Homo sapiens: one gene and its partner. Each later gene encodes a partner of the first gene's protein in a complex. Each region holds a gene or a part of one and is shown on either strand. Other genes may lie near its edges. The genes, in order: KLB and FGF19.

What was found.
Region 2: the proteins of KLB (region 1) and FGF19 are in contact, whole or in part, in a crystal structure (PDB 6NFJ), measured with the Homo sapiens proteins. Residues at the interface, in NP_783864.1 of Homo sapiens: Phe379, Lys380, Val392, Leu394, Trp419, Phe420, Thr421, Asp422, Val425, Thr431, Tyr434, Met435, Asn438, Tyr643, Glu693, Arg696, His743, Asn824, Phe826, Met832, Gln848, Phe849, Leu850, Gln851, Ile853, Leu862, Phe931, Phe942; in NP_005108.1 of Homo sapiens: Leu192, Thr194, Asp195, Ser196, Met197, Pro199, Phe200, Leu202, Val203, Thr204, Ser211, Pro212, Ser213.

What each region holds. Positions count from the first base shown.
Region 1 is NC_000004.12:39,398,818-39,414,556, forward strand, and holds the start of KLB (beta-klotho), read left to right. Parts: upstream 1-8,112; 5' UTR 8,113-8,132; coding exon 8,133-8,957; intron 8,958-13,092; exon of another isoform or gene 13,093-13,157; intron 13,158-15,739.
Region 2 is NC_000011.10:69,697,017-69,712,215, reverse strand, and holds FGF19 (fibroblast growth factor 19 precursor), read left to right. Parts: upstream 1-8,193; 5' UTR 8,194-8,339; coding exon 8,340-8,571; intron 8,572-8,851; coding exon 8,852-8,955; intron 8,956-12,639; coding exon 12,640-12,954; 3' UTR 12,955-13,978; downstream 13,979-15,199. UniProt on the Homo sapiens protein: Involved in the suppression of bile acid biosynthesis through down-regulation of CYP7A1 expression, following positive regulation of the JNK and ERK1/2 cascades. Stimulates glucose uptake in adipocytes. Activity requires the presence of KLB and FGFR4.

The DNA of each region.
Region 1 (15,739 bases):
TTAAAACTTAGCCTTTGTTGAGAAGCTTCTTTTTTTCCTTTTTTGAGAAAATCTCACTCTGTCACCCAGGCTGGAGTTTGGTGGCACAGTCATGGCTCACTGCAGCCTCAACTTCCCAGGCTCAAGTGATCCTCCCACTTTAGCCTCCCTAGTAGATAGGACCGCAAGTGTGCACCACCATGTCCAGCTAATTTTTTATTTTTATTTTTTGTAGAGGTGGGGTCTCACCATGTTATCCAGACTGGATTTTGTCTTTTTAATTTCAAATTTCAATCGTTCATTGCTGGCATATAAGAAAACAATTGACTCTTGTGTATTAATCCTGCATCTTGTGCTCACTTTGGAAACAGATTTACTAAAATTGGAATGATACAGAGAAGATTAGCATAGCCTCTGTGCAAGGATAGAGTTGTGAAGCATTCTTTATGTGTCTTCAGCTTGGGCAAGAGTGACACCCTATCTCTGAAAAAAAAAAAAAGATTTGTGAAGCATTCTTTATTTGTCTTCAGCTTGGGCAAGAGTGACACCCTTTCTCTGAAGAAAAAAAAAAGAAAGAAAAAGGAAAAACAAGAAGAGGAAAAGACACAAAGAAGGCCATGTGAGGCCAGCCACAGTGACTCACGCCTATAATCCCGGCACTTTGGAAGGCCAAGGCAGGTGGATCACCTGAAGTCAGGAGTTGGAGACCAGCCTGGCCAACATGGTGAAGCCCCATCTCTACTAAAAATAAAAATTAGCTAGGCATGGTGGCTCATGCCTGAGTCCCAGCTGCTCGGGAGGCTGCAGCAGGAGAATCGCTTGAACCTGGGATATGGTGGTTGCAGTGAACTGAGATTGTGCCACTGCACTCCAGACTCCAGCCTGGGCAACAGAGCAAGACTTCATCTCAAAAAAAAAAAAAAAAAAAAAAAAGGCCAGGCGTGGTGTCTCACACCTGTAATCCCAGCACTTTGGGAGGCCGAGGCAAGCAGATCAGGAGGTCAGGAGTTCGAGACCATCGTGGCTAACATGGTGAAACCCCGTCTTTACTAAAAATACAAAAAATTAGCCAGGTGTGGTAGCATGCACCTGTAGTCCCAGCTACTCGGGAGGCTGAGGCAGGAGAATGGCATGAACCTGGGAGGTGGAGGTTGCAGCGAGCTGAGATCATGCCACTGCACTCCAGCCTGGGCGACAGAGCAAGACTCTGTCTAAAAAAACGCCATGTGAAACAAGCAGAAATTAAAATCATGTTGCCACAAGCCAAAGAATGTCAAGAGCCACCAGAAGACTCAAGGAAGGGTTCTCCCTCAGAGCCTTCAGAGGGAGCATAGCTCAGCTGACGCTGATTTTGGATAACTGTAGAAGCTGAAATCCAAGAGAACTTGCCACCTGCCCATTTGGAAACCACCACAAAGTAATCAACTGCAACACATTCTTTGACACAAGAAGGGGATTAGAAAAAAGGGTTGCTTCGAGAGTTTAGTGGCAGACTTCATACTTTTTAATTAAAAAAAACACATTTTGTTTTTACCAAAAAAAAAAAATCTTGTATCTTGCATCCTTGCTGTAATCACTTATTAGTGCCAGGATTCTTTGGTTGGTTCTTTAGAAGTTTTTACATAGACAATCATTATCATCTGTGAACAAACACAGTTTTGTTCGTTGCTTCCCTTTCTGTATGTTTTATTTCTTTTGTTGCTGTTGTTTTACTGCATTAGCTACAACTTCCAGCGTAATGTTGAATAGAGGTGATGAGAACAGACATCCTTGTCTTATTCCTAATCTTAGTAGGAAAGTATCTAGTTTCTCCAATAGACTTTATTTTTAAGAGGCAAGGTCTTACTATGTTGTCCAGGCTGGAGTGCCGTGGCGAGTCACAGGCGCAATTATACTGCACTAAAGCCTCGAACTCCTTGCTCATACAATCCTCTTGCCTAAGCCTCCCAAGTAGCTAGGACTATAAGTGTACACCGCCACGCCTGGGTTTCAATAAACTTTTACATCTAATATCAACTATTTGTATTCTTTTAATGTTCATTTTTGGGTTTTGTTGTTGTTGTTGTTTTGAGACAGAGTCTCACTCTGTCGTCCAGGCTGGAATGCAGCGGCACGATCTCAGCTCACTGCAACCTCTGCCTCCAAGGTTCAAACGATTCTTCTGCCTCAGCCTCCCAAGTAGCTGGGACTACAGGTGCACACCACCATGCCTGGCTAATTTTTGTATTTTTAGTAGAGATGGGGGGGTCTCACCATGTTGGCCAGGCTGGTCTCGAACTCCCAACCTCAGGTGATCCACCTGCCTCAGCTTCCCAAAGTGCTGGGATTACAGGCATGAGCCACTGCACTGGCCCATTTTTGTTATTAAAAGTTAAAAAATCAGATTAAATATACAAAAGAAGAAAAATAACTATAACCCTTAGCTCACCGTCCAAACACAATATGGCAAAATGTGGGCATTTTCTTATAATTTCTATATGTGGTTATTGTTCTAATGGTTTTTTAAGTATTTTAATGCTACTATATATTCTCTGAAAATGTTACTGACTCTACAACATTTCATGAATATTCAAATGAATATTCCATGCCTTAGATAAGTATTCCCCTATAGATGGATCTTTAAATTATTTATAATTTTCCTCTGTTATAAATAATATTGCTATAAAAATATTTTTGCATGGAGGACTTTATATATTTAGAAACAATTCATTACAATATATTTCAGAAATTCTTGAATCAAAAAATTTTAGGTTCATGGTATATTGGAAAATTACTTTCCATGTGGTCGGACACAGTGGCTCAGGCTTGTAATCCCAGTACTTTGGGGGGCTGAAGCAGGTGGATCACTTGAGGTCAGGTGTTCAAAACCAGCCTGGCCAACACAGTGAAATCCCATCTCTACTAAAAATATAACAATTCTCCTGAGGCAGGAGAATCACTTGAACCTGGGAGGTGGAGGTTGCAGTGAGCCGAGATCACGTCACTGCATTCCAGCCTGGGTGACAGAGCGAGACTCTGTCTCAAAAACAAACAAACAAAAATAGCCAACTGTGATGGTATGCGTTTAAATAATCCCAGCTACTTGAGAGGCTGAGGCAGGAGAATTGGTTGAACCCAGGAGCCAGAGGTTGAAGTGAGCTGAGATCACGTCACTGCATTCCAGCCTGGGCGACAGAGCAACACTCTATCTTTAAAAAAAAAAAAAAAAAAAAAAAAAAAATATATATATATATATATATATATACATACACACACATATATACTTTTCATGAGTATTGTGCAAACTTACATTGCAATCAACAATCTAATCAACACTGGTTTTCATCACTTATCATTTTTATTTTTGCTAATTTTATAAGATAAAATATTGACCAGGCACGGTGGCTCATGCCTGTAATCCCAGCACTTTGGGAGGCCAAGGCAGGCAGATCACCTGAGGTCAGGAGTTCGAGACCAGCCTGGCCAACATGGTGAAACCCTGTCTCTACTAAAAATACAAAACTTAGCCGGGAGTGGTGGCAGACACCTGTAATCCCAGCTACTCGGGAGGCTGAGGCAGGAGAATCACTTGAACCTGGGAGGTAGAGGTTGCAGTGAGCCTAGATCGTGCCACTGCACTCCAGCCTGGGTGACAGATCAAGACTCCATCTCAAAAAAAAAAAAAAAAAAGATTAAATATTATATACCTCTTTTTATGTATGTTTCTAATTACTCATGGTTTAATTTTTTATTAGCCACATTTTTCACTAGTTGCATTTCCTCTTTTGTGTATTTTTAAATTCATGTTGTTTGGCCATTTATCTGTTAGAGATTTAGTGGCTTTCTTGTTGATTTGCATGAATTACTTATGGCCATTTGCCTTACTTTGGCCATTTGCCTTCTAGATTTGCTTTGACATTTTCCAAGTTTGTTATTTGCCTTTAAATTTTATTTTTTATATTTTAATTATAAATTATTTATATATCATCATATGTAAATAGAATAATATATATAATCTACACATTTACATAATTTAATATTTACTTCTGTTTTCTTTAATTTTCTGTGGCTATATTTTTTAAATTGTGGTAAAATCAAGTAATATGAAATGTACCATCTTAACCATTTCTGTGGTTATACATTTTTGAATTAAATATATTTGTGAGGATCTAAGATATTGCATTTAAAATTTTATTTTCATAAATAGTAATGTACCAACTCCATTCATTCAATAGATAATTATTAATCATTTACTCTGATAAGCAATTATAAACATTTAGATAGGAGATATTCTTACAGTGTGGTGGAGGAGACAAACAACTCCAGGATTATGTGATAAATGCAGTGATAGAGGTATACATAGTCTACTATAGCTACTTTTTTTTTCTTAGTAGAGATGAATTCTCACTATGTTGCCCAGGCTAGTCTTGAACACCTGAACTCAAGCGATCCTCCTGCCTCAGCCTCCCAAAGTGCAGGGATTACAGGTGTGGGCCCTCATGCCCAGCCTACTATAGATACTCTCATTCATTCAGTAAATACTTTAGTGACTGCTATATGTCAAGTACCATGCTGGGCCACAGACAATCAACAGGGAACCAATCATGGTCCCTGTTTTGGTTTTTAAAAAAGAGAGAGAGAGAGAGAAACAGAGAGAGAGAGAGAAAACTTACACTCAAACAGAGGATACAGATACATTTATTGTGTGGTTAGCTGATTTATTGTGTGTCATAATAGAGAAAACATGGGCTGCCATGGGAAAACAGAAGATCCATCTAAATCCAATCAGGCTAGGGAGTCATAGGGAGTCAGAAAGGCCTTACTAATGCAGGAACAGAAGACCAAATACCGCAGGTTCTCACTTATAAGTGGGAGCTAAATGATGAGAACACCTGGACACATAGAGGGAAATAACACACTGGGGCCTATCAGAGGGTGGAGGGTCGGAAGAAGGAGAGGATCAGGAAAAAAAAACTAATGAGTACTAGGCTTAATACCTGCCTGCTGAAATAATCCATACAGCAAACACCCATAACACAAGTTTACGTATGTAACAAACTTGCACGTGTCCCTGAACTTAAAAGTTAAAAAAAAAAAAAAAAAAAAAAAGACGGCCGGGCGCTGTGGCTCACGCCTGTAATCCCAGCACTTTGGGAGGCCGAGACGGTCGGATCACGAGGTTAGGAGATCGAGACCATCCTGGCTAACACGGTGAAACCCCGTCTCTACTAAAAATACAAAAAACTAGCCAGGCGTGGTGGCGGGCGCCGGTAGTCCCAGCTACTCAGGAGGCTGAGGCAGGAGAATGGAGTGAACCTGGGAGGCGGAGCTTGCAGTGAGCCGAGATCCCGCCACTGCACTCCAGCCTGGCAGACAGAGTGAGACTCCGTCTCAAAAAAAAAAAAAAAAAAAGATAGACATGAGCTAGATGAAGGGAGAAACATACTCTGTGCAGAGAGCACACATACCAAGGTACAGGGCTACAAGTTAGCAGGCTGTGTACCCCTTAGTCAACTGAGAGAAGTGAAGCTAAAAATGTGGGCAGGAGCCAGAACAAATTGTCTTTTATGCTAAATCCTGGCATCATGTCCTGAATAATCTTTCCCTTTCACACAAAAATAATATTAGCACATAACTTACTATGTGTCAGTCTCTGTTCCAAGTGCCTTACATGTACTGGCTCATTCGTTTCTATATTCCAGAGAAAACCATTTGGTTCAGTGTATTAACTCGTTTAATTCTCACAATAATCCATGAAGTGCATATTATTATTATGCCTTTTCTTAAAGAGGAAACTGAGGGCAAGTTACACAGCTATATTTAAACTCAGGCAGTCTGCCTCTAGAGGCTCAATCTCTCTTTTTTTTTTTTTTTTTTTTTTTTTTTTTTTTTTTTTTTTAGACAGAGTTTTGCTCTTGTTGCCTAGGCTGGAGTGCAATGGCGCGATCTCGGCTCACTGCAACCTCCACCTCCCGGGATCAGGCAATTCTTCTGCCTCAGCCTCCCGAGTAACTGGGATTACAGGCATGTGCCACCATGCCCAGCTAATTTTGTATTTTTAGTAGAGATGGGGTTTCACCATGTTGGTCAGGCTGGTCTCGAACTCCTGATCTCAGGTGATCCAGCCGCCTCGGACTCCCAAAGTGCTGGGATTACAGGTGCGAACCACTGTGCCGGGCCTCAATCATCTTTTTTTAGAGGTGAGGATAGTCTCACTATATTGCCCAGGCTGGTCTCAAAACTCCTGGCCTCAAGCAGTCCTCCCCACTTAGCCTCCTAAGTAGCTGGGATTATAGGTGTGAGCCACCTCATCTGGCACAGAGACCAAACTATTAACCACTCTGCTTCTCATTCATATGTGATACTTCAAATATTTAAAACATTTATTTATTTATTTATTTATTATTTTTTGAGACAGAGTCTCATTCTGTCACCCAGGCTGGAGTGCAGTGGTGCAATCATGGCTCACTACAGTCTTGACCTCTTGGGCTCAAAGCAATCCTCCCACCTTGGCCTTCTAAAGTGCTGGGACTACAGGCATGCACAACCACACCCGGTTAGTTTTTAATTTTTTTTGTAGAGATGGGGCCTTATTATGTTCCCCAGGCTGTAAAACATTAAATTTTTTACAGGTTATTTGGAGGCTATCGATTTGGTACAATATTTCTTTCTGTATGTGCATGTATTTCTTTCTGTATGTTTATCTTTATTCCAGAATCATGCTGAAGGTAGTCTATGCCTTTGCTATTTTCTTTTTCAGGTTTTTCTTTCCTTTTTAAAAATAAATATTGCCTATTCTTCAAGGGAACTTTCATAATAATTTTCTCTTTTTTTTTTTTTTTTTATTTTGAGACCGAGTCTTGCTCTGTTGCCCAGGCTGGAGTGCGGTGGTGCGATCTCAGCTCACTACAACCTCCACGTCCCAGGTTCAAGAGATTCTCCTGCCTCAGCCTCCCAGGTAGCTGGGATTACAGGTGCCCACCACCGTGCCCAGCTAATTGTATTTTTAATAGAGACGGGGTTTCAACATGTTGGCTAGGCTGGTCTCAAACTCCTGACCCCAAGTGATCTGCCTGCCTTGGCCTCCCAAAGTGGTGGGATTATAGCCATGAATCACTGTGCCTGGCCTTTCGTAATAATTTTCTTGAACTAAAATTTGGGATTAGGCCAGGCATGGTGGCTCACACCTATAATCCCAAGCACTTTAGGAGGCCGAGGCAGAAGGGCTGTTTGAGCCCAGGAGTTCAGGACCAGCCTGGGGGACATAGCTAGACCCCACCTCTACCAAAAAATCAAAAATCAGCTGGGCATGGTGGCATGTGCCTGTTGTCCCAGCTACTTGGAGGCTGAGGAGGGAGGATTGCTTAAGCCTGGGAAGTTGAGGCTGCGGTGAGCTGTGATGACACCACTGCACTCCAGCCTAGGCTACAAAGCAAGACTCTTATTAAAAATTAATTAATTAATTAAAAAATTAGAGATTAGAGAATTTTAGTTAAGTTAAATAAATAAAATAAAAAATAAAATTAGAGATTAGAGGATTTTAGTTAAGTTAAATGTATTAAATTGAAAAGTATTTCATTTTTCCATCCACAAAGTGCTATATTTTCTCATTCAAGTCTTCTCTCAAATCTACCAATACATTTTTGCAATTTTCCTAAAATAGGTAACATTTATTAAGATTGTTCTTAGATGCGTTATAATTTTGTGGAGAAGTGTAATTTCTTATTGTGTTTTCTAATTCTTTACTATTGGTATGTAGGAATGCTATATACTTGTATATGTTATTTTTCTTGATATATGAGATTATAAAATTACCACACAAAAACTCTAAAAATAGAAAAGCTATATACCTTATTCAATAATGTTCAAAACATTCAGAAAAGATTTGGGTCAATATGAAAGGCTACACGGAAAATAATGTGATTTTAATCCAGTGTTTACATATGTGTTAGTTACACATTCAAACTCTTGTCACCGATGCATTTTCATCTAATTTTTTCCATAATGAGAGAGAAGGAGACGCGTTGGTGACTGCAATAGGGCCACCTCCCTCAAATTACGTTGCTCTCTATGACCCATCCTCAGTCTCCCAGTTCAAGCTAATCATTGACAGAGCTTTACAATCACAAGCTTTTACTGAAGCTTTGATAAGACAGTCCAGCAGTTGGTGGCAAATGAAGCCAGGCTGTGCGGCAGGATCTCCAGGGAATGAATGGATTTTCTTCAGCACTGATGAAATAACCACACGCTATAGGAATACAATGTCCAACGGGGGATTGCAAAGATCTGTCATCCTGTCAGCACTTATTCTGCTACGAGCTGTTACTGGATTCTCTGGAGATGGAAGAGCTATATGGTCTAAAAATCCTAATTTTACTCCGGTAAATGAAAGTCAGCTGTTTCTCTATGACACTTTCCCTAAAAACTTTTTCTGGGGTATTGGGACTGGAGCATTGCAAGTGGAAGGGAGTTGGAAGAAGGATGGAAAAGGACCTTCTATATGGGATCATTTCATCCACACACACCTTAAAAATGTCAGCAGCACGAATGGTTCCAGTGACAGTTATATTTTTCTGGAAAAAGACTTATCAGCCCTGGATTTTATAGGAGTTTCTTTTTATCAATTTTCAATTTCCTGGCCAAGGCTTTTCCCCGATGGAATAGTAACAGTTGCCAACGCAAAAGGTCTGCAGTACTACAGTACTCTTCTGGACGCTCTAGTGCTTAGAAACATTGAACCTATAGTTACTTTATACCACTGGGATTTGCCTTTGGCACTACAAGAAAAATATGGGGGGTGGAAAAATGATACCATAATAGATATCTTCAATGACTATGCCACATACTGTTTCCAGATGTTTGGGGACCGTGTCAAATATTGGATTACAATTCACAACCCATATCTAGTGGCTTGGCATGGGTATGGGACAGGTATGCATGCCCCTGGAGAGAAGGGAAATTTAGCAGCTGTCTACACTGTGGGACACAACTTGATCAAGGTACTGTACAGCTAGCTTCTTCTTATAGCTTCAGAAAACACTAAGAATTTAAGAATTTACCTTCTGCCTCAGTAATTCTCTTCACTGAAATCAAGGCAACTGATTTTAAGCTAATTCAAAAGATCTATCCTCAAATTTTGCATTTAAGTTAGTGTATGTTTTATTTATCTAAGGTATTTTTAATGTATTAATCCAATTAGTTTTTTCAAAAGTTGCACTTTGAGGCTATTTTTAAATCTACCATTATACACTACAGTGTGAATATATGAGCTTACTTTCATTCTGTGGGAAAACAGTGCTTCATAAATTTAATTGTTGGAACCCTTTTCTGACAACATGCAATCATTTCAGAATTATCTTAAGGCACAACCATTTCAAATATGTATTTGTTGTTAAGTATAGCTAACTTAGCTAATAAGTAAATAAAGTAAGTAAATAAGTAAGCCAAATAAATGTTAGCTAACTCATGCATATTAAATACAGAAATTTAAATATACTTCACTTTTGATTTTATTTGTGTTACATAGCAAAAAAGAGAAGATTAATTGTTATGGGAGCTAAACACATTTCTTCCCATAAGAACTGGGAAGAATGTGCTCTACTAAAGCAATTTTCAAGCAATATATTTCAAAAGCTAGAGATAATGTTGAGAAATGTTAAAATTAGTAAAACAATAGTGAAAATACAAGCAAAATAATAGGTAATAATTACTGAGTACTTATTATGTACCACAGACTACATTAAGTATTTTACATGCATCGTTACAGTTGATCCTCTTAACAGCCTTTTGAACTAGTTTTATTATTCTTCCCATTTAAAAGATGAGGAAACTGAAGCTTAATGAGATTAAATAATTTTCCCAAGGTTAAGGAGTAAAATACAGCTGTTGTGGACATGGATTTTTTAAATGACAACATAATTAACACTAACTGTCTTCATTAAGAATGCTTTGAAAAGAAGACTCAGGAATTTGCAAGAGATTTAGCCTCACATTGAGGCTAATATCTAGAATCGAATTTAACTTTTTGAGTCAAATAGTTTACTTAGGAAAAATAAATTATTCTGCACACCTGTTACATTTTAAAAATGAAAAAACTTTATCAATATAATTTTATAATGTGCTACAAAAAGTAATTTAATTATTAATAATCAAAAGCTAAATATACAGAAGTAGAAAAAAAATACAGCAACATAAAATAATTCCATGTCTAAATTTGTACATACAAAAATATCTGCTATCACTTCTTTTCTTTTTGAACTTTTCTGGATTATTACACATGTGCATTGTACTATGGTTTCAGATACATCTGCCCTTGAGGTAAACAGATTGCATTATGATTTCAAGGTCATTTGCATATCTTTGACTAGAGTTGTATATAGAACATATTAATGTGTGGGTATACTGTGATTTGACAAAATAAGACCTTAAAGGGTAGAAATTGTATAGGTATTTAACAGTTATCAAGATTATGCATACAAAAGTTAGAAAAATATTCCTCTCATTTAGTCCTTTTAATTTTCTTTTTTTTTTTTTTTGAGACAAAGTCTCACTCTGTCACCCAGGCTGGAGTGCAATGGCGCAGTCTTGGCTCACTGCAATCTCCACCTCCCAGGTTCAAGCAATTCTCCTGCCTCAGCCTCTTGAGTAACTGGTACTACAGGCACATGCCACCAGCCCAGTTAATTTTTGTGTTTTTAGTAGAGAGGGGTTTCACTATGTTGGCCAGGCTGGTCTCCAACTCCTGACCTCATGATCCACCTGCCTCAGCCTCCCAAAGTGCTGGGATTACAGGTGTGAGCCACTGCGCTCAGCCAGTCCTTTTAATTTTTAAAACAATTCATGCTCATGTACATTTAAAAATATCAGATTGGGCCGGGCACAGTGCCTCATGCCTGTAATCCCAGCACTTTGGGAGGCCAAGGCAGGTGGATCACAAGATCAGGAGTTTGAGACCAGCCTCGCCAACATAGTGAAACCCTCTCTACTGAAAACACAAAAATTAACTGGGCGTCGTGGCACGTGCCTATAGTCCCAGTTACTCGGGAGGCTGAGGCAGGAGAATCCCTTGAACCCGGGAGGCAGAGGTTACAGTGAGCCGAGATCACGCCACTGCACTCCAGCCTGGGCGAGAGTGAAACTCTGTCTCAAAAAAATAATAAATAAAAAATAAAAATATCACATTGTACCAAAGGATCTAAAGTGAAAAAGTTAAATCCCTCTCCCTCTCTTCACCTGACAATCCCAGGCCAAGGACGCTACTGTTAATAGTTTCTTATACATTCTTTTTAAAGTTTTCTATGCAAATACATGCATGAATATGTTTATTTAACCTTTGTATAAAGAAAAATATTCTAAATTGTTGAAAAGTCATTACCTGGAAAAATGTCAACAATTAGAGTTTTCATGAAAATGTATTTTAAGGATTAAAGCCTTAAAATTGGCTGATAAGAATAAACAGGCAAAAAGCTTTAACAGATATTGCTTCCAAACATAGTTGATAAAATGACATATTTTCAGATGTTTTCATTTTCCTCTAATTTGAGATATTCTCTGCCTTTAACACAAAATTAGCACTTTATGATCGTGAGATAAATTTTATTATTTTAAATGGAGGGATATGTTTTTCAACTATTGTGTTTTCCAAATAATGTTTGTATTGCCTTAAAAGTTCTAAATCACTAGACTAAATAAATGGTGTGAGGGGTCCTTGAAATCAGTCAGAAAGTGAAATACACTGCATGACCCAGTGACGTATAGCACTAAAGAAATCTTGCAATGATTTGGTAGCCTGAGGTGAACTTGTTTTTCCCACTTGTCCCCTCGCTGTCTTGACTTTCACGTAGAAAACATTAATTTGATATTTTACGTTGCAATGAAGTATTTCTTCCTTCTCCTGCCCCCTTGTGACCCAGAAGAAGCATTCTTTAGGAATAGTTTTTAGACCGAAAACATTTATTGAGCTACACAAGCCTAATATAAAACTGAATTCTGGGGGGGTATGGACCCCTTCATTCCCCACTTCTCAGATAGAGAAAAGGTTTCATAGTGGCTATTGGGGTCCTTTTCGTTCCAGAATGATCTGGAAAACTCCATCTCGGTTTGAAATGTTCCCATTTGGAGGAAACCTGAATGGTCCAGAGGGTCCCAAGGCTGACTTGCAATTTAGATTCCACTTTATTGCAGATGTAGGGAGTACCTTAATGCGGGTCTAAGACTCAGGTAAAAATTTTCCATAATCACACCTACTAATGGATGAACCAACTCTAAGTTTTTGTTTTTGTTTTGTTTTGTTTTGAGACGGAGTTTTCGTTCTTGTTGCCCAGCCTGGAGTGCAGTGGCACAATCTTGGCTCACTGCAACCTCCGCCTCCCGGGTTCAAGCGGGAGCCTCAGCCTCCCGAGTCGCTGGGATTACAGGCAAGTGCCACCACGCCTGGGTAATTTTTTGTACTTTTAGTAGAGACGGGGTTTCTCCATGTTGGTCAGGCTGGTCTGGAACTCCCGACCCACAGCGCCCGGCCTCAAAACTAAGGTTTTTTTTGTTTTGTTTTGTTTTGTTTTGATTTTTTTTTTTTTTTTTTTTGAGACGGAGTCTTGCTCTGTCGCCCAGGCTGGAGTGCAGTGGCGCTATCTCGGCTCACTGCAAGCTCCGCCTCCCAGGTTCACGCCATTCTCCTGCCTCAGTCTCCCGTCAAAGCTGTTTTTAACAGCATTTGAAATAGAATGAGGATGTATTTTTTGGCTTGGCCATTTTTTTTTTTTTAAGACAGAGTCTCACTCTGTCACCCAGGCTGGCGTGCAGTGGCTCGATCTCAGCTCACTGCAACCTCCGCCTCCCGGATTCAAGCGATTCTCCCGCCTCAGCCTCCCGAGTAGCTGGGATTACAGGTGTGAGCCACTGCTCCTGGCCCTGGCTTGGCCATTTTTAAGCACGGTAATCATCACTTTAAATATCATCTCTAGGCCTGGCATGGTGGCTCATACCTGTAATCCCAGAGCCTATGAGTTTGAGACCAACCTGGGCAACATAGCAAGACCCCCTTCTCTATTTAAAGAAAAAAGAAATAATATCTATGTATTCTAAGTGAAGTAACTCAGGAATGGAAAACCAAATGCCATATGTTCTCTCATATAGTGGGAGCTAAGCTATGGGTATACTGAGCTTATGTATGCATCTGCATACCCATAGCTTAGCTCCCACTATATAAGAATGATACAATGGACTATATATACAGAATGATATATACCTACATACAGAAGGATATAATCAACTTTGGAGACTCAGAACAGGGAAGCTGGGAGAGGAGTAAGGGATAAAAAAACTGCATATTGGATACAATGTATACTCCTCTGGTGATGAGTACACTAAAATCTCAGACTTCACCGTTATACAATTCATCCGTGTAACCAAAAACCACTTGTACCCCAAAACTATTGAAATTTTAAAAATATTTTTAAAAAGAGAAATATTATGAACATTTACATTCCAAAAGGACATAAATAAATAAATATTATCTATACTCTTTACAACAATCTTGCCAGGTAACTATTATCCTCATCTTACAGTGTGATATTTTGAATATGCGTGATATTGCTCCCCTGTGTAAAATCCATTAGTGGCCCCCCCAAGCTTTGGGGATAAAGTCTCAATTTTTCACCAAGACCTTTGAGATACAGTTCCCAGCCTCCTTCCTGGCCACTCTCCCATCCTCTTGCACTTCATATTCGATCATAACACACTACTGCCAGTGTCTCAGTCTCTCCTTACTATTTCTCTCCACCCAGCCTCAACTATCCCACTCTGTCTAGCTCAAATGCCCTCTTTACTTCGTGATGGTCACTGCCTCCAAGTCATTCTTGCCCCTTTAGGATTTAAGTGCCCCTTCTGCTGGCTCCCATAAGATGGGCTTGTTTCTAGCATAGCACTCATACGACATGATACTTTTCCATCTCCCCAGCTAGACTGAGAGTTCTTTCAAAGGAGAGACAATTTTTAAATTTGCCTTTATGTTCTCAGCACCTAGCACAGAATATTTGTACATATTAGGTGTAAATGTTGGTTAAATGAATGGTTTAGGATTTCTGTCTTAAATACTGTAATCAAAAACTAATCTCAAGTTCAATCTTCATATTTCATTGCATTATTGCAAACTGTCGAAATATTACTGATATTAATCGGGTGGTATATTAGTCAGGACTTTTTTGGTGGCAAGTTACAGAAATCTAATTCAAATTGGCTAAAGCAAAAAGGGGCAATTTCCTGGCTCAGTAACCAGACCACAGGGATGAATGGGCTCAGTGACCAGGAAGGCCCTTTATTTCAGCCTCTCACGTCCATTTCTTCCTCGGGTTGTGTCATCTTCTCCTTTGTAGAGGAAAGATTTCTCTCTCCCAAGTTTAGTTTTTTCAATCCCAGAAATGTATTTGGCCTATGCAGCAAAGCCCCAAGGGTTCACATTAGTAAAGGCAGTAATGTCTGTTTTCATTCTATTTTTAAATCAATAAATACATGTAATAATTTAAATTTGTACATTTCCCTTTTAGAATGGAACATTTGAGAGTCTCTGAGTAAACATGCACAGAGGTTTGGGAAGGTGAATTTGCTCATGAGACAATAACTCATTCTGTTTATTACTCCACTAAATATTGCCAAAGCGGGGCAGAGTTGCTCCTGCCTGTAATCCTAGCACTTTGGGAAACCGAGGGAAGAAGATCCCTTGAGCCCAGGAGTTCAAGACTAACCTGAGCAACATAGTTTTGTAGAGACAAGACAAACCTTGTCTCTACAAAAAATAAAAAATCAGCTGAGAGTGGTGGCACATACCTGTAGTCCCAGCTACTTGGGAGGATGAGGTGGGAAGATCACTTAAGCCCGGGAGGTCAAGGCTGCAAGGAGCTATGATTGTGCCACTGCACTCCAGCCTGGGTGACACAGCAAAAACCTGTCTCAGGAAAAAAAAAAAATAAATAAAATAAAATAAAATAAAACAAAAAATACTGCCAGCTTTCATGACAGTTTTGACCATTTCATGACTTTAAAAATCTTTGTCTTTTACTAGTCACATTGGGTTAGGGGGAAAATGTTATCTTTCATAGATAAATACTGTTTACATAGTACAAAGATTTCTCAAACCTGGTCACTATTGACATTTGGGGTCAGATAATTCTTTGCTGTGGTAGGCTGTCCTGTGCAATGGAGGAGTTCAGCAGCATCTAAACTCTACTCACTAGATGACAGTAGCTCCCCCATTTTCAGTGTTGTGACAATCAAAAATGTCTCCAGACCTTGCCAAATGTCCCCAGGAAGTCAAAATTCCTCCCCCTCACTCCACCTTTGAAAACCACTGACTTATTCTATAGTAGACAACTGGTTAAAGACATGAAGCACAAAGAACAAGGACATTGACATGTAACCAGTATGAGGGGCATAAAAATGATTATTTTACACAATTGCCTCAAGGAGATCTTCACCAGATCTGTAAGTTGCATACAGAAACTCAAAATTAATGTACAGCCTATACTGTTTTTAGAAAAAAAAAAAAAACAGTGCTTTTAAAATGTTAAAAGAGGAAATAATATTTAATCATCAACATGATTACATCTAGTTTGGCTTTTCACATATCGAGAATAAAGACTGTCCCTCCTGGCTTTGCCTTATTTGTGAAATACTTGAAAGAGCTGCCCCAAACCATTTTTCTTATATTAAGCATTAGTTATTTCTTAACCATTAATATTTTCTTATATTAACCATTCATGAACAAAACACTAATCTTACTTTTTAA
Region 2 (15,199 bases), on another chromosome or scaffold:
ATACTGGCATTTACAAAGTCACAGTGATCATGCAAGTGGGGGACTCAGCATCTGGAAGCGGCCCCTGAAATGAAACCGCATGCAGGGGTCAGTTCCCGGAGTGTGTTCTGCTGTGGACCTTGAAGAAAGTTGTTGTTTATGGAAGCCCCATTAGCCCAAAACAGCCCTCAGCAGAAACAGGAACATCAGCCCATATGGGACCTCCCTGCCTGCGTCCCCTGCTGCCCCAAACACACCCCTTCTGCCCAGCTAGAAGCCCTGTTGCTAAGATACCACAGGGCTGGAAGAGATTCGAATTCCTTTTCTTTTTCTTTTCTTTTTTTTGAGACAGAGTCTCACTCTGTCACTCAGGCTGAAGTGCAGTGTCATGATCTCGGCTCACTGCAGCCTCTGTCTCCCAGATTTAAGCGATTCTCCTGCCTCAGCCTCCCGTGTAGCTGGGACCACAGGTGCCTGACACAATGCCCAGCTAAGTTTTTTTTTTTTTTCTGGAGACAGAGTCTTGCTCTATCAGCCAGGCTGAAGTGCAGTGGTGTGATCTTGACTCATTACAACCTCCGCCTCCCGGGCTTAAGCGATTCTCCTGCCTCAGTCTCCCAAGTAGCTGGGACTACAGGCACGCGCCACCACGCCCAGCTAATTTTTGTATTTTTTGTAGAGACGAGGTTTCACCATGTTGGCCAGGATGGTCTCAATCTCTTGACCTCGTGATCCGCCTACCTCGACCTCTCGAAGTGCTGAGATTACAGGTATGAGCCACCGTACCCGGCCATTTTTTTTTTTTTTTTAGTAAAGACGGGGTTTCACCATGTTGGCCAGGCTGGTCTCAAACTCCTGACCTCAGGTGATCTGTCCACCTTGGCCTCCCAAAGTGCTGGGATTACAGGTATGAGCCACTGTACCTGGCCTAATTTTCTCGACATGATGTGTGACCCATCAGAAGTGTCTGGAATGAGTTTGCAGGTGGGACGAATGATCAGTTTGGCAATGGAAGTCAAGGGAGGGCAGGAGGAAGGAGAGACGGGATGAACAAGGAAAGGATGGGCAAGGAGGCCAGTGAGTGCACAGCAATGTCAACACCTTCCAGTTCTTTTTTTTTTTTTTTCTTTTGAGACGGAGTCTGGCTCTGTCACCCAGGCTGCAGTGCAATGGCTCAATCTCGGCTCACCGCAACCTCTGCCTTCCGGGTTCAAGTGATTCTCCTGCCTCAGCCTCCCAAGTAGCTGGGATTACAGGTGCCCACCACCACGCCCGGCTAATTTTTGTATTTTTAGTAGAGACGGGGTTTCGCCATGTTGGCCAGACTGGTCTCAAACTCCTGACCTCAAGTGATCCACCCGCCTCGGCCTCCCAGAGTGCTGGGATTACAGGTGTGAGCCGCCGTGCCCGGCCCTTCCAGTTCTTTTAAATGATTCATCCAATATTTCTTGGCAGCGTCAAGTGCCAGGCTGGCTCCGTGCAGGACACCAGGGTCATGCCCGCAAACTGCGCACTTGTATCCTCACTTCCACAGAGCTTTGTCTGAAGAGGAGACATGTAGGGTCAATTTCCACCCCAAGACATGACGTCCAGGTACCACACAGCAGAGCAGGCGGAGCTGAGGGCTGCACTCAGAAGTGGGGGCTCTCTGGCTATCTTGCTAGAGTCAGCCCAGGGTCTCCAGTGACCACTCTGGGAAGCACATGGGCAGGTCATGGGGCCAAGGAATCGAAGAGTAGGGCCAAGCCCCTAGCTGAGGCTCCGAATTTGGTCAGGGCTCTTAACTTTTTGAAAGAGCAGCTGTTTGGGTTTTCCTTTTTTTTTTTTTTTTTTTTTTCAGTGGTGGATCACAGCTCACTGCAACCTCTGCCTCCCAGGCTCAAGTGATCCTTCCACCTCAGCATCACAAGTAGCTGGGACTACAGACTCACGCCACCACGCCCGACTAATTTTTGTATTTTCTGTAGAAATGGAGTTTCGCCATGTCCCCCGGGCTGGTCTTGAACTCCTGGGCTCAAGTGATCCACCTGCCTTGGCCTCCCAAAATGTTGGGATTACAGATGTGAGCCACTGTACCTGGCCTGGTTTTGCTTCTTTTTTAAAAAAATAAAAAGAGAGTAATGATTAAATAGCTTTGTGACTCAAATTCAGCTAGAACTGCATTCAAATCCCAACTCTGCTGTTTATTGGCTTTATTTGTGACTCTGGGCAAGGAGCAGTTTCTGAGCCTCACTTTGCCCCTCTTTAGAATGGGAGCTATGAGACCCAAATACCGTGAGGCATGTAAACTGCCCAGGACAGTTCTGGGCACTTGGTGTCAGCCATCACTACCACCACCACCATGGCCAGAGGATTTCAAGCACTCAGCAAATGGTGCTGGCCAGGCCTGTCCTGGGATTTCCTAACCATCTCGGACAGAAGAAAGAAAAAAGACATTGTGGAAAGGTGGCTGAGCTTTTGGAGAGAAAAGACCCTCCCTTTGGGCATGAAGTTTGAAGAGCCATCCACTTGTGGAGTCTGGGACTCATCCTTCTCCACGAAAGGTTTATGAAGCAGACAGAGGCCAGGGCTTCTGAGAATTTCCAACCTCGATATTTTCACTTTATGGTTTTTCACGAAGTCAGCATGAACACGGTTAATGTTTTCTCATTAAGCTACTTTTTGTTTTCTTTCAGTAGCTGACATTCAAAGCCTGGGCGCATTCTTTCACGACGTTGCTACTCTGACAGCTCAACACATTCGCGATGGGAACTCATATCTGTTTTGATGAGGGAGACCAGAGGGAAAAGAGCATTCACGTACAGAAATACCCTTTGTGGCTACTTCTGTCAGCTCCTGTCCTCACAGGTGAGAAAAGTAAGGCTCACAGCACAAGCAGGCCCTCCCAGCTAGGGGAGCTCACGTCCTGGGCCTTCTGAACCGGCAGTAAAGGGAGGGCTCCGACTCCAGCTTTGCTATGCCTCATGGTGCCTGCTGGTGGTGGTGCTTACACACCAGGAGCCCCTGTCCCGGGATAAGACACAGCACAGCCTGGATTTACAAGCCCCACTGTTTGGGTTCAAATTCCAACTTCACCACTAACAGGGTGTGCGACCTTGGGTCACTCGGCCACTTTTCTGGGGCCCCCATTTCCCTCCTGCTCCATGGGGAAGGGGGAATAGAATACCATGGGGGCTCTTGCGGAGATTTGAGCTGAGAACATCCATGTGTGCTCAGGCTCACCGCAGATGTCTGGAGGAAGCTGTGCTGCCCTTTGTGTGAACAGAAGCAGGGCAGCTTCCTGAATTCCACCCTTTACACAGGGCCAGGGCCTACCTGGGGGAGAGACGACAGGGCTCAGTAATTCCAAGAGCGGACATGCGCGAGATGCGTCTCCAAGAATGTTCTCCCCTGCATGGTCTGGCAGGGGACGTTGGAAACAACCTAAACGTCCAGCAATAGGGGACAACAGATTGTATCACTCAGATGTGCTGGTGTCAAAGGCTGTGCTAGGATATTTAATCCCAAGGAAAGTGTTTACAACTGAGTTGGTGGAAAGGAGGTTACAATTCAAATGATTTTTTTTTAAGATACATACATACTTTTTTTATTATTATTTATTTTTCAGTATCACTCTGTTGCCCAGGTTGGAGTGCAGCGGTGTGATCTTGGCTCACTGCAACCTCCGCTCCCTGGGTTCAAGCGATCCTTCCACCTCAGCCTCCACAGCAGCTGGGACTGCAAGCATGCGCCACCACACCCAGCTAATTTTTGTATTTTTAGTAGAGATGGGGTTTCACCATGTTGGCCAGGCTGGTCTTGAACTCCTGACCTCAGGTGATCCACCCACCTTGGCCTCCCAAAGTGCTGGGATTACAGGAGTGAGCCACCGCACCCAGCTGAATCTCATTTTTCAAGATGAAAAGAGTTCTGGAGATGGATGGTGGCGGTGATCCACACAGCTTTATGAATGTATTAATTCCTCTGAACTGTACATTTAGAAATGGTTAGGATGGTAAATTTTATGTTGTTTATGTTTCAACACAATAAAACAACTGGAAAAAAAGTATCTATTAATGCTTATTTAAAATTCAGACACAATTTACTTTAGAATTTAATAGAAATTGCTCTGAAAAAAATGCACCTTAATTTTAAGGGAACAGCTCTATTAGTTTTGATAAATGTCATTGCCTGTGTATTCACTACCACAATAAAGATAGAGAACATTTTCATCTTCCATTTATCCTTCTCTGCTTTTTTTTTTTTTTTTTTTTTTTTTTTTTTTTTGAGACAGAGTCTCTCTCTGTTGCCCAGGCTGGAGTACAGTGGTGCGATCTCGGCTCACTGCAACCTCTGCCTCCTGGGTTCAAGCAATGCTCCTGCGTTGGCCTCCCAAAGTGCTGGGATTACAGGCATGAGCCACCACGCCCAGCCTTCTATTTACCCTTTTCTAGTGGATCTCCATCCAGCTTTTTGTCACTATATATCTTTTTCTAGAGTTGCCATTAAATTTTAAAATAAGTAATAAATGTAGCAAAGATCGCCAGAGAGCAGCATTTACAACAGTAACAATAGCTACCCTTCTGTTATGTGCTTTACATGTGCCAGGCTGTCTCTATCTTACAAATATTGGTCACTTGATAGATGGGGATGTCTTTTCTAATGCTCGTATTAACCCTGTAAATTAGCGTTCCTTTTGCTGTTTTACAAATGAGGAAATGGAATCTCAAAGAGGTCTTCCTTCTACTCTGTCACAGTCTCTGCCAATTTCTGGGCTAGCTGGGTGGCCTCATTTCAGAATAACGATGCGTATGGGGGAAGAAATGGCTGTTGGTGAATCAGAAAGTCTTGGGGGAAATAATGCATGTTCTAGCAGGTTGTAGCAAAAATACTGGGCTGAGATTCAGGAGTCCCTGGGTCTCAGCCTCCAGTTGGCCAGGAACCAGCTGTGGGGCGTGGCCTCGATCACCTCAGTGTTCACAGCTCTCTCGGTCCCACGCTACCCTGCAGTTCTTATTTTCTGATAAAGACTTTTACCACACCCAGAAGTTTCTCCAATTACAAAATAATTTTCAATCACAAGGTGGGAGCAGGGGGTTTGGGAGGGGCTCTAGGGAGTGCTTATGTAGAAGAATGCACATTTGACAGCAAAACATACATTTCTAACTGTAAAATGAAAGGAAAACTATGATTTTCATAATGTAAAAATTGGAGGTGAAGCCGAATAAGATGTTCTTAGACACTGGGACACGGGTTTAGAAATGGTGGAAATCACTCATTTGCCATAATCAGGAAGAAGGAACCTCTACACCCTCAGATGGAAGAAGGAAGACTCCAGAAAAAGGATTTACGGTTCTACAGGGCAATTAAATAAAAAAATAAAAAATGAATTAAAAAAAAAAAGCTAACATCAAATCCAGAACAAAGCCAAGCCAAGCCCTTCTGGACACCTGGGCTGGAGACCCCCATACCCCTGCATGGGTGAGCGGGACATCCAGGTGCCTTGGACCCTACCTGCTACCCATTGCCCATGCCATTCAATGAATGAAACCCCACCTGGGCGATTCAGCCGGCTTAGCCACCCAGGGGCAAATCAAACACAACCTGAAAAGCAAAGTCAGCCCAATGCAGCACACAGGTGGCTTCAGAGGTCCCGGTGTGCACAGAACAGAGTGGGAGGAGGACCTCAGCCCTTGCCACACCTCTGCTCTCGCCAGGAGAGCCCCTTGCTGGCCAGCACTGCCTTGTCCTCTGCAGGCTTGGCTCCCTCTAACCACACACACCAGGGAGCCCAGCAAACACCCAAGATCGTGTGCCTGGCCCACCTGGGGCAAACCCTCGAGGCCCGGCAGTCCATCTCTGTAACCGTCAGCTACCTCACATGAGCAGGATCCATCCCCTAAGCTCTCAGAGCATTGCTGTGCCTGTGAGATGGCCGGCACACAGCTGACCTCAAGGCCTGCCATCAACACCTTCATGAGTGCTACATCCCAGGCCCTCTCTGTCCCCTCTTCCTTGTCACCCTCAGGACAAGCCTGAGAGCAAGCTGAGAGGGCAATGGGTCAGCGGTCCACGACCTACCCAGGGAGTGGCCGGGTGTGATCCATGCTACAGTGGGTCTGACCCCGGAGCCCCTGTCCCGGGATAAGACGCAGCACAGCCTGGATTTACGAGCCCCACTGTTTGGGTTCAAATTCCAACTTCACCACTAACAGAGTGTGCGACCTTGGGTTACTCGGCCACTTTTCTGGGGCCATTTCCCTCCTGCTCCATGGGGGAGGGAGGAATAGAATACTGTGGGGGCTCTTGTGGAGATTTGAGCTGAGAACCTCCATGAAGCGCTCAGAACAGGGGCTGGGGGACAGCAGCCGCCTTCCTCATTTCCCCACCTCCCTGATCGCATCAGCCACTCTCTTCCCCATGTCCCTGGAAGGGGCTGCAGAGGGGTAGGGGTGGAACCAGAGGCTGCCATCGCCCCCACCCGGTTTGGGTCGTGTCCCCCAGTGCAGCCTCTGCCATCGCCCTCAAGAGCATTTATCACGCATTTACCACGGATCTTTAAAACGAAAGCTGCAGGGGAGGGTAATTAAGTTTAATAGGAGCCGCCGTCGATTTAAAGCCACAGGGGGGAAGTAATTAGATTTAACAGAAGCCACGGCTTTCTGAACCAAGACACACAGCGTGGGGGTCCCTGGTCTAGAAAGCCTTCGGGATGATGTCTTTTTGTAAAGACTTTCCTGGTGACATTTGCTGCGCCCTCAGTCATTAACGCCAGTCACTGACTGGGGAATGAATGTGGCCTCTGCTCATTGAAATTCATTAGGCCTGGCATTTCTCTCGCTGTCTCTCCTGTTTGCCCTCCCCATCGCCTTTGCGCTGGGCCAGGAGGGCTCTGCCCCCAAAACCAGCCTCCTGGGGCCCCACATCCAGGAGCTGGGGGTTTGGAAGAATAACAAGAAATAATTAGAGTTAAACCAAAGCCCCGTAGGAGGACCCCTTTATTCCCCGCCTGGGTATTCTCTGGATGTCGTTTTCTTTATTGGCAGGAACCGCTTCATGGAGCGGCCCCCATTTCTTTCCTCACCTGGCACCTGCCCGGACGCCAGGGGCGCCCATCACCGTTCCTGGGCCCCTTCCCGACCCCTCCCCACCAGGTAAGGCGCTCTCGACCTCCCCGACCGTGCTGTTCCTCCTGACCCCGTGCGCAGGGACTCGGGGACTCAAAAACCAGACCCCCGACACAAGACAGCTCAAAAAACGGGAAACGGAGGCCCAGGCCTCCCTCCCTGCGCCCCTGCCTCCACCACCCTCCAGCCGAGAAGCTGGGGTTCACCAATCCCGCAGCTGGCCCGCCCACCCTGCCCGAGAGCCTCCTTCCCAGTGCCCCCTTTCAGGTTGCATCTCGCGCACAGCCGCGGGGCCGGGGCGAGCGCGGAGCAGGCAGGGGCGCGGGGCCAGGAGCGCAAAGCCCAGGCGGACGCCGAGGCTGCGGCGCCACCTACAGTCCGCGCGGCTTCCATTGTTTCCCCGCCGGCCGAGAGCGCGCCCGGCCCCCCGTCGGGGGGCAATTTACCCGGATAAAAGGGGCGGGGCAGGAATTGCAAGAAGATGAAGCTGAAAGAACCTGAGACTGTCGGAACTGCCGGGGAAAATTCTACGGGACGGCTTTGACGTCAGATGTGCGGGGCTGCGAAAGTCGGGGGAGGGAGTGCGAGTGGGCTTTTAAGGGGAAGGGCACTAAGGCCGAGGTGAGGCTTTTCCCGACAGAGGGTGAAGGGGGCAAAACTCGGTGCCCCCCAACCTCTGGCCCCGGGGTTCCTGACCCCGCCCCCGCTAGTGCCCCACGCCGAGTGCATCCACTGGGAGCCTGAGGCCTGGGGGAAGGGCCCCAGTTGTCGATTGCTTTACAAAGTCAAACTCTCCCAGCCAAGAACCTCGGGGCCGCTGCGCGGTGGGGAGGAGTTCCCCGAAACCCGGCCGCTAAGCGAGGCCTCCTCCTCCCGCAGATCCGAACGGCCTGGGCGGGGTCACCCCGGCTGGGACAAGAAGCCGCCGCCTGCCTGCCCGGGCCCGGGGAGGGGGCTGGGGCTGGGGCCGGAGGCGGGGTGTGAGTGGGTGTGTGCGGGGGGCGGAGGCTTGATGCAATCCCGATAAGAAATGCTCGGGTGTCTTGGGCACCTACCCGTGGGGCCCGTAAGGCGCTACTATATAAGGCTGCCGGCCCGGAGCCGCCGCGCCGTCAGAGCAGGAGCGCTGCGTCCAGGATCTAGGGCCACGACCATCCCAACCCGGCACTCACAGCCCCGCAGCGCATCCCGGTCGCCGCCCAGCCTCCCGCACCCCCATCGCCGGAGCTGCGCCGAGAGCCCCAGGGAGGTGCCATGCGGAGCGGGTGTGTGGTGGTCCACGTATGGATCCTGGCCGGCCTCTGGCTGGCCGTGGCCGGGCGCCCCCTCGCCTTCTCGGACGCGGGGCCCCACGTGCACTACGGCTGGGGCGACCCCATCCGCCTGCGGCACCTGTACACCTCCGGCCCCCACGGGCTCTCCAGCTGCTTCCTGCGCATCCGTGCCGACGGCGTCGTGGACTGCGCGCGGGGCCAGAGCGCGCACAGTGAGTGCCCGCCAGCACCCCCGCCCGCCCCGCCGCGCGCACCCCACCCCGCTGCGCGCGCCCCACCCCAGCGCCCTTCCTTCCTTTGCCACCCTTAGGCTCCTGCGGACCCCTCAACTCCTGGGAACCCCAGGTTTTGGCACCTGGACGTTAGGATCCCTCCGTTAGTCCCCAAACAGCGCGGGACGCTAGGGAGAAGCACAGGCTTGTGGACCGACCGCACCCACGTGGTGCGGGCCCAGCGGTCCTTGCTGCAGCTTCTCGCTTCCCCTGCGCCTAGGTTTGCTGGAGATCAAGGCAGTCGCTCTGCGGACCGTGGCCATCAAGGGCGTGCACAGCGTGCGGTACCTCTGCATGGGCGCCGACGGCAAGATGCAGGGGCTGGTAAGTGTCCCCACGGGGCGGATGCGCCGGGGCGGGGGACCGGCGCCTGTCCCCGGGCGGAGGCCTGAAGGAGAGAAAGGCGCTGGTTCGAATCCAGGGTTTCCTCGCCTCCTCCGCCCAGACCCGCGTGCAACTTCGAGGGAAAGATTGCAAAGACCGATTAAGTGCATGTCCGACGATTTCCTACGGAAATTTAGGGTCTCAGCCAGCAGCCAGAGAATAGGCAAAAGCTGCCTTTGCATTTCCAATTGAGTCAAAGGCCGGCCTAGCCGGACCGAGGAAACCCATTATTCGGCCTCCTTTGATATTAAACAGGAAAACCCACCTCGGGCCTTTTCAGCCTCTGCCTGCGCGTGTGTGGTCCTCGCCTCCGTTTCCCTCCCTCCAGTATAAAAGAAGAAAAAAAGAATGGGAAAGAAAAAAGAGGATCTACCCATAACTTTCCTTTAAAAACAAATCAATTGTCAAGCAAGGCAGAAAACAGTGCATTTGGGATAGGAGAGATTTTTTTTTTAGAATTAATTTTTAATCTACCAGGAGCACGGTGTGGCTTAGACGCAGATGCGCTGGAGTCATGTTGCGCCAGGGGAGTGCTTTTCCTCCTGCGGGCCTCACCTGTCCTGTAAACGCTTTCTGGTGGGGGCAGGGGGTGGGGGCTGGCAGGGAAGGCCCAGGTAACCGCAGAGGTCCCGGGGCCGGAAGTGTACGAGCGCTGGGGCTCTGGTGGCCGGGAACAAAGGCTGGGAGTTCAAAGGAACGAACCCGCGCCCCTCCCGCGGCCCCGCGCGCAGAGGAGGCTGTGTGAGGTCTCGGCCCGCGCAGGCCTCACACGCAGCCCCGGACTCCCTGGCGGAGCAGGGGCCAGGGCGGGGGTGGCCGCGCCTGCCCGGGGCCCCCACCCCAGAAAGGATGCAGAGGCGGGGCCGCCTCCGGCCCAACCAGCTCCTTTGTGAACAGCGGGACAAAGCATTTTAGAGTCTCAAAATTGCTCGGTGCCTCTGCCGTGCTCCGTGTACTCGGAGCGCCTGTTTCAGGTTTTATGGCGGAGTCCTGCGTGAGAGGACTGCAGAGAAAGGGGGTGGTCGGCACGCTGGACGCTGACTCCCACCCAGAGCCGCTCCAAACCCACCCTTGCAACTTTAATTTTGACATTTACTATGGCAGGGGGTGTGGGGGTTCCTAATGATGGGAGGCCAGCAGGGGACGTCAACCTAACCCGCCATTCTGCCCAAATTGGGGGTTGGGTCACCTGAAATCCCTCTGTGCCTTTTTTTTTTTTTTTTTTTTTTTTTTTTGGCAGAGTCTTGCTCTGTCGCCCAGGCTGGAATGCAGTGGCCAGATCTCGGCTCACTGCAACCTGTGCCTCCCAGGTTCAAGCGTTTCTGCTACCTCAGCCTCCCATGGAGCTGGGATTACAGGTACCCACCACCAAGCCCAGCTACCTTTTGTATTTTGGGTAGAGATGGGGTTTCACCATGTTGGTGGCCAGGCTGGTCTTGAACTCCCGACCTCAAGTGATCCGGCCGTCTCGGCCTCCCAAAGTGCTTTGGGATTAGAGGTGTGAGCCACCGCGCCCAGCCCCCTTTGTGCCTCTTGATCCCCTGTGCATGGTCTAACAGAAATTGAGGATCTTTTTTTTTTTTTTTTTTTTTTTGAGACGGAGTCTCGCTTGCTCTGTCGCCCAGGCTGGAGTACAGTGGTATGATCTTGGCTCACTGCAACCTCCACCTGCGGGGTTCAAGCAATTCTCCTGCCTCAGCCTCCCAAGTAGCTGGGATTACGGGCACCGTGCCACCATGACCGGCTAGTTTTTTTGTATTTTTAGTAGAGATGAGGTTTCACCATCCTGGCCAGGCTGGTCTCGAACTCCTGACATCACGATCTGCCTGCCTCAGCCGCCCAAAGTGCTGGGATTACAGGCATGAGCCACCTCGCCTGGCCTCTTTCTTAAATAAAAATGCCACATTCTTCTAGAAACTTGAAGTCATTTCGTTTTCTGTATGGAGAAAGTGATACTAATTTCTCCCAAAGGACAAGCCAAGTAAATAGAAGAAGGTCCTCCAATCATTCGGTTTTGTGTTCCTTGTTTATTGATCATTTGGCATTTTTGGGAGTTTGGGAGAAATCACGCTTGCTGTCCGATGCTTTGTCCCAGCCATCCGTGGGCTCGGCAGGAGCCTGGGTTGCTGCAATGAGCCTCTTATCAGGAGCTTATTAGCACAGGTACCTCGTCACCCACCTGCAGTTCAGTGACCTTTGCAGACTTAGGCAGGAACCTGACTGAGGCCGTCCTGCAGTGTGTTTACTGCCCAGCCCTTCCGGCTCCCGCCTGCGCCTGTCCTGGGTCGCCAAGGGGTAATGACACCGGTGTGGGATGGCACTTGCCCACTGGCACCTCTCAACCCCGTGGACTATGAATGTTCTAAGACAAGGCTTCCCTCAGCACACATTTCCGGCCACCAGCTGGGCGCCGGCCTGGCCTGGCCTGGCCTGGGGGAGGGGCTGCTGAGATCTGCCTCCTGGCAGCCTGCCTGGAAGGCCCTTGGTGACTGAATGGAGGAGACAGCGGGGCTGATGGTTCTCAGAACTGCTGCAGACCAGAAGGCCTTAGAATGATAAAGGCACACAGTGATTTCTGAGATAGGTGGGGAACAGATGCTTTCATCTGGGACCCAGATCGGATCACACGCAATTTATTTAAAAGACCTATCCTAAGATGACAACCCAGTTTATCAGTGTTTCCCAAAGTGCCAATGAAATACCCAGGAACTTTTTAAATGCCAGGAGTTATGTCTGTAATGTAAAGGGTGAGGGAAACACAGACGGCATTCCTGTGGGTTGATGGATATTATTGCTTAGGACAAGGCTCTCGAAAAAGTGAGGTAATTTAGTGGAAATTATTTGGGTCTATATAGAGTGTATATGTAGTATTAAGTATATACATAAAATATACATATATGAAATAATAAACCTCAGTTTTGTCTGTGTGCATGTATATCTATATAAAGATTATAATTTATAAAGGTATATAAATGTATATTTAATTTATTAATGGGTTATATATTAACATAATGTACATATTATATATGCTTACACTTACAGTACATTTATATATGTGTGTGTGTTCTCTGTGTATATATATAGTTGTGGGTTTTTTGTTTTGTTTTTTTTTGAGACAGGGTCTTGCTCTATCACCCAGACTAGAGTGCAGTGGCATGATCATTGCTCAGTGCAGCCTTGACTACCCAGCCTCAACCCATCCTCCCACCTCTCAGCCTCCCGAATAGCTGGGCCTACAGGCGCCCACCTCCATGACCTGCTAATGTTTGTACTTTTTGTCAAGATGGAATTTTACCATGTTGCCCAGGCTGGTCTCAAACTCCTGGATTCAGGTGATCCATCTGCTCTGGGCCTCCCAAAGTGCTGGGACTACAGGTGTGACCTACTGTGCCTGGCCTTAAAGTACATTATATATTATATATACTTACATATATAAAGGTATATTTTATATATACTTACACGTACAGTGTGTACATCAGGAAGTATGTATAAAACATGCAAGTGATGCTTATGTGGAAGGTCACTGCTGGTGGCCACCAGGGACAGTCTGTAGCACAAACGTCCATGTGGACCCGTGTTCCCTGTCCACTGTGGATTGCTCAGAGCTGCCTGTTTTCTCTGCAGCTTCAGTACTCGGAGGAAGACTGTGCTTTCGAGGAGGAGATCCGCCCAGATGGCTACAATGTGTACCGATCCGAGAAGCACCGCCTCCCGGTCTCCCTGAGCAGTGCCAAACAGCGGCAGCTGTACAAGAACAGAGGCTTTCTTCCACTCTCTCATTTCCTGCCCATGCTGCCCATGGTCCCAGAGGAGCCTGAGGACCTCAGGGGCCACTTGGAATCTGACATGTTCTCTTCGCCCCTGGAGACCGACAGCATGGACCCATTTGGGCTTGTCACCGGACTGGAGGCCGTGAGGAGTCCCAGCTTTGAGAAGTAACTGAGACCATGCCCGGGCCTCTTCACTGCTGCCAGGGGCTGTGGTACCTGCAGCGTGGGGGACGTGCTTCTACAAGAACAGTCCTGAGTCCACGTTCTGTTTAGCTTTAGGAAGAAACATCTAGAAGTTGTACATATTCAGAGTTTTCCATTGGCAGTGCCAGTTTCTAGCCAATAGACTTGTCTGATCATAACATTGTAAGCCTGTAGCTTGCCCAGCTGCTGCCTGGGCCCCCATTCTGCTCCCTCGAGGTTGCTGGACAAGCTGCTGCACTGTCTCAGTTCTGCTTGAATACCTCCATCGATGGGGAACTCACTTCCTTTGGAAAAATTCTTATGTCAAGCTGAAATTCTCTAATTTTTTCTCATCACTTCCCCAGGAGCAGCCAGAAGACAGGCAGTAGTTTTAATTTCAGGAACAGGTGATCCACTCTGTAAAACAGCAGGTAAATTTCACTCAACCCCATGTGGGAATTGATCTATATCTCTACTTCCAGGGACCATTTGCCCTTCCCAAATCCCTCCAGGCCAGAACTGACTGGAGCAGGCATGGCCCACCAGGCTTCAGGAGTAGGGGAAGCCTGGAGCCCCACTCCAGCCCTGGGACAACTTGAGAATTCCCCCTGAGGCCAGTTCTGTCATGGATGCTGTCCTGAGAATAACTTGCTGTCCCGGTGTCACCTGCTTCCATCTCCCAGCCCACCAGCCCTCTGCCCACCTCACATGCCTCCCCATGGATTGGGGCCTCCCAGGCCCCCCACCTTATGTCAACCTGCACTTCTTGTTCAAAAATCAGGAAAAGAAAAGATTTGAAGACCCCAAGTCTTGTCAATAACTTGCTGTGTGGAAGCAGCGGGGGAAGACCTAGAACCCTTTCCCCAGCACTTGGTTTTCCAACATGATATTTATGAGTAATTTATTTTGATATGTACATCTCTTATTTTCTTACATTATTTATGCCCCCAAATTATATTTATGTATGTAAGTGAGGTTTGTTTTGTATATTAAAATGGAGTTTGTTTGTATCAAAAGGTGCATTCTATTATCCGCCTAGAATGTTAGGGAGGGTGGGGAAGGGGCTGGTGGGGGGCAGCACCGTCCACGGGAGGAAACCCTCGGTGTGTCTGCCCTGGACACCAAAAGCTCGGGTGGGAAGTTAGCGGGTTTGGGCCAGCCAGCTCTAGTGGTGGAGGCTGGTTTGGGCCCTGCTGTCCTGCCCTTTCCTCATGCCTAGGGGCTTGGCTTCCTCAGTCCACCTTCTCTCTAGCAGTCTCAGTGGTTAGGGCGGCCTCTCTGCCAGGAGTGTTTTTGGCTGCAGGAAACAAACACCAAGGAACAGCGGCCTAAGTGAGGGCCTCTCGCCCTCAGCACTCTTCCCTGGGGAAAGACGTTCCTGCATTTAACAGTGCCCCCCCCACCCCCCACCATTAGATGCCTGTAGAAACCCTCAAGTTGTGACAACCAAAATACCTCCAGAAGTTGTTGCATGTTCTTAGGAGGCAAGATCACCCTTAACGGAGGACCACTGACCGGAGCAAATAGGATTTCTTTTTGTCCAGCCACAAATCCAGAGGGACCCAGTGACCCAGCGATGCCTGGGCTGTGCCCTGTGTGATTCCCTTGGTGTCCCTGTCCTGCTGGGGCCTCGTCTCGCCAGGGCTGCTGTGGCTTCAGCTGAGCGCCCTGTACTCAGGGAGAGGGAATCATTTCGGGCTGGGCCTCTCTCATCAAGAAAGCCAAAACTTCCTTAGAACCTTTCAGCAAATTCCGGCTACATCCTAAGAACCAGGTTTGCGTCACAGGACCAGGCCAGCCCCAGCTGCACGGCAGGCTGGGAAGGCAAGAATTAGCGGTCAGGGTGACCAGATGTGGGCCACATCCTGAGTGCAAGGAGGAGCAGGTGCAACCGGACACCAACGTGTGCATGAAACATGATTCCAAATGAGCATTTGCCAGGGATTAGGGATGGTGGAGGGAGTCGGGGAGGAGGGTTGGGTCACTCAGGGCAGTAGTTCCCAGGTGCTTACGTTGGCAGCGAGGGGGGTAATGTCGTTGTTCAAGTCTACGAAGGCTATTTCAGGTGAAGCCTCCCTGCTCTCCAGTAAAAGGGACCTCCACTTGTCATTCTCACTGATGACATGCCCAGGACATCTAGAGTTAACCCTTGGGGCGTTCCCTGTCTCCATCTGCCAATCAAGATGCCCCTCTCACTCTTTGGTGTCCTTGTCATGTAACCATGCTGATTA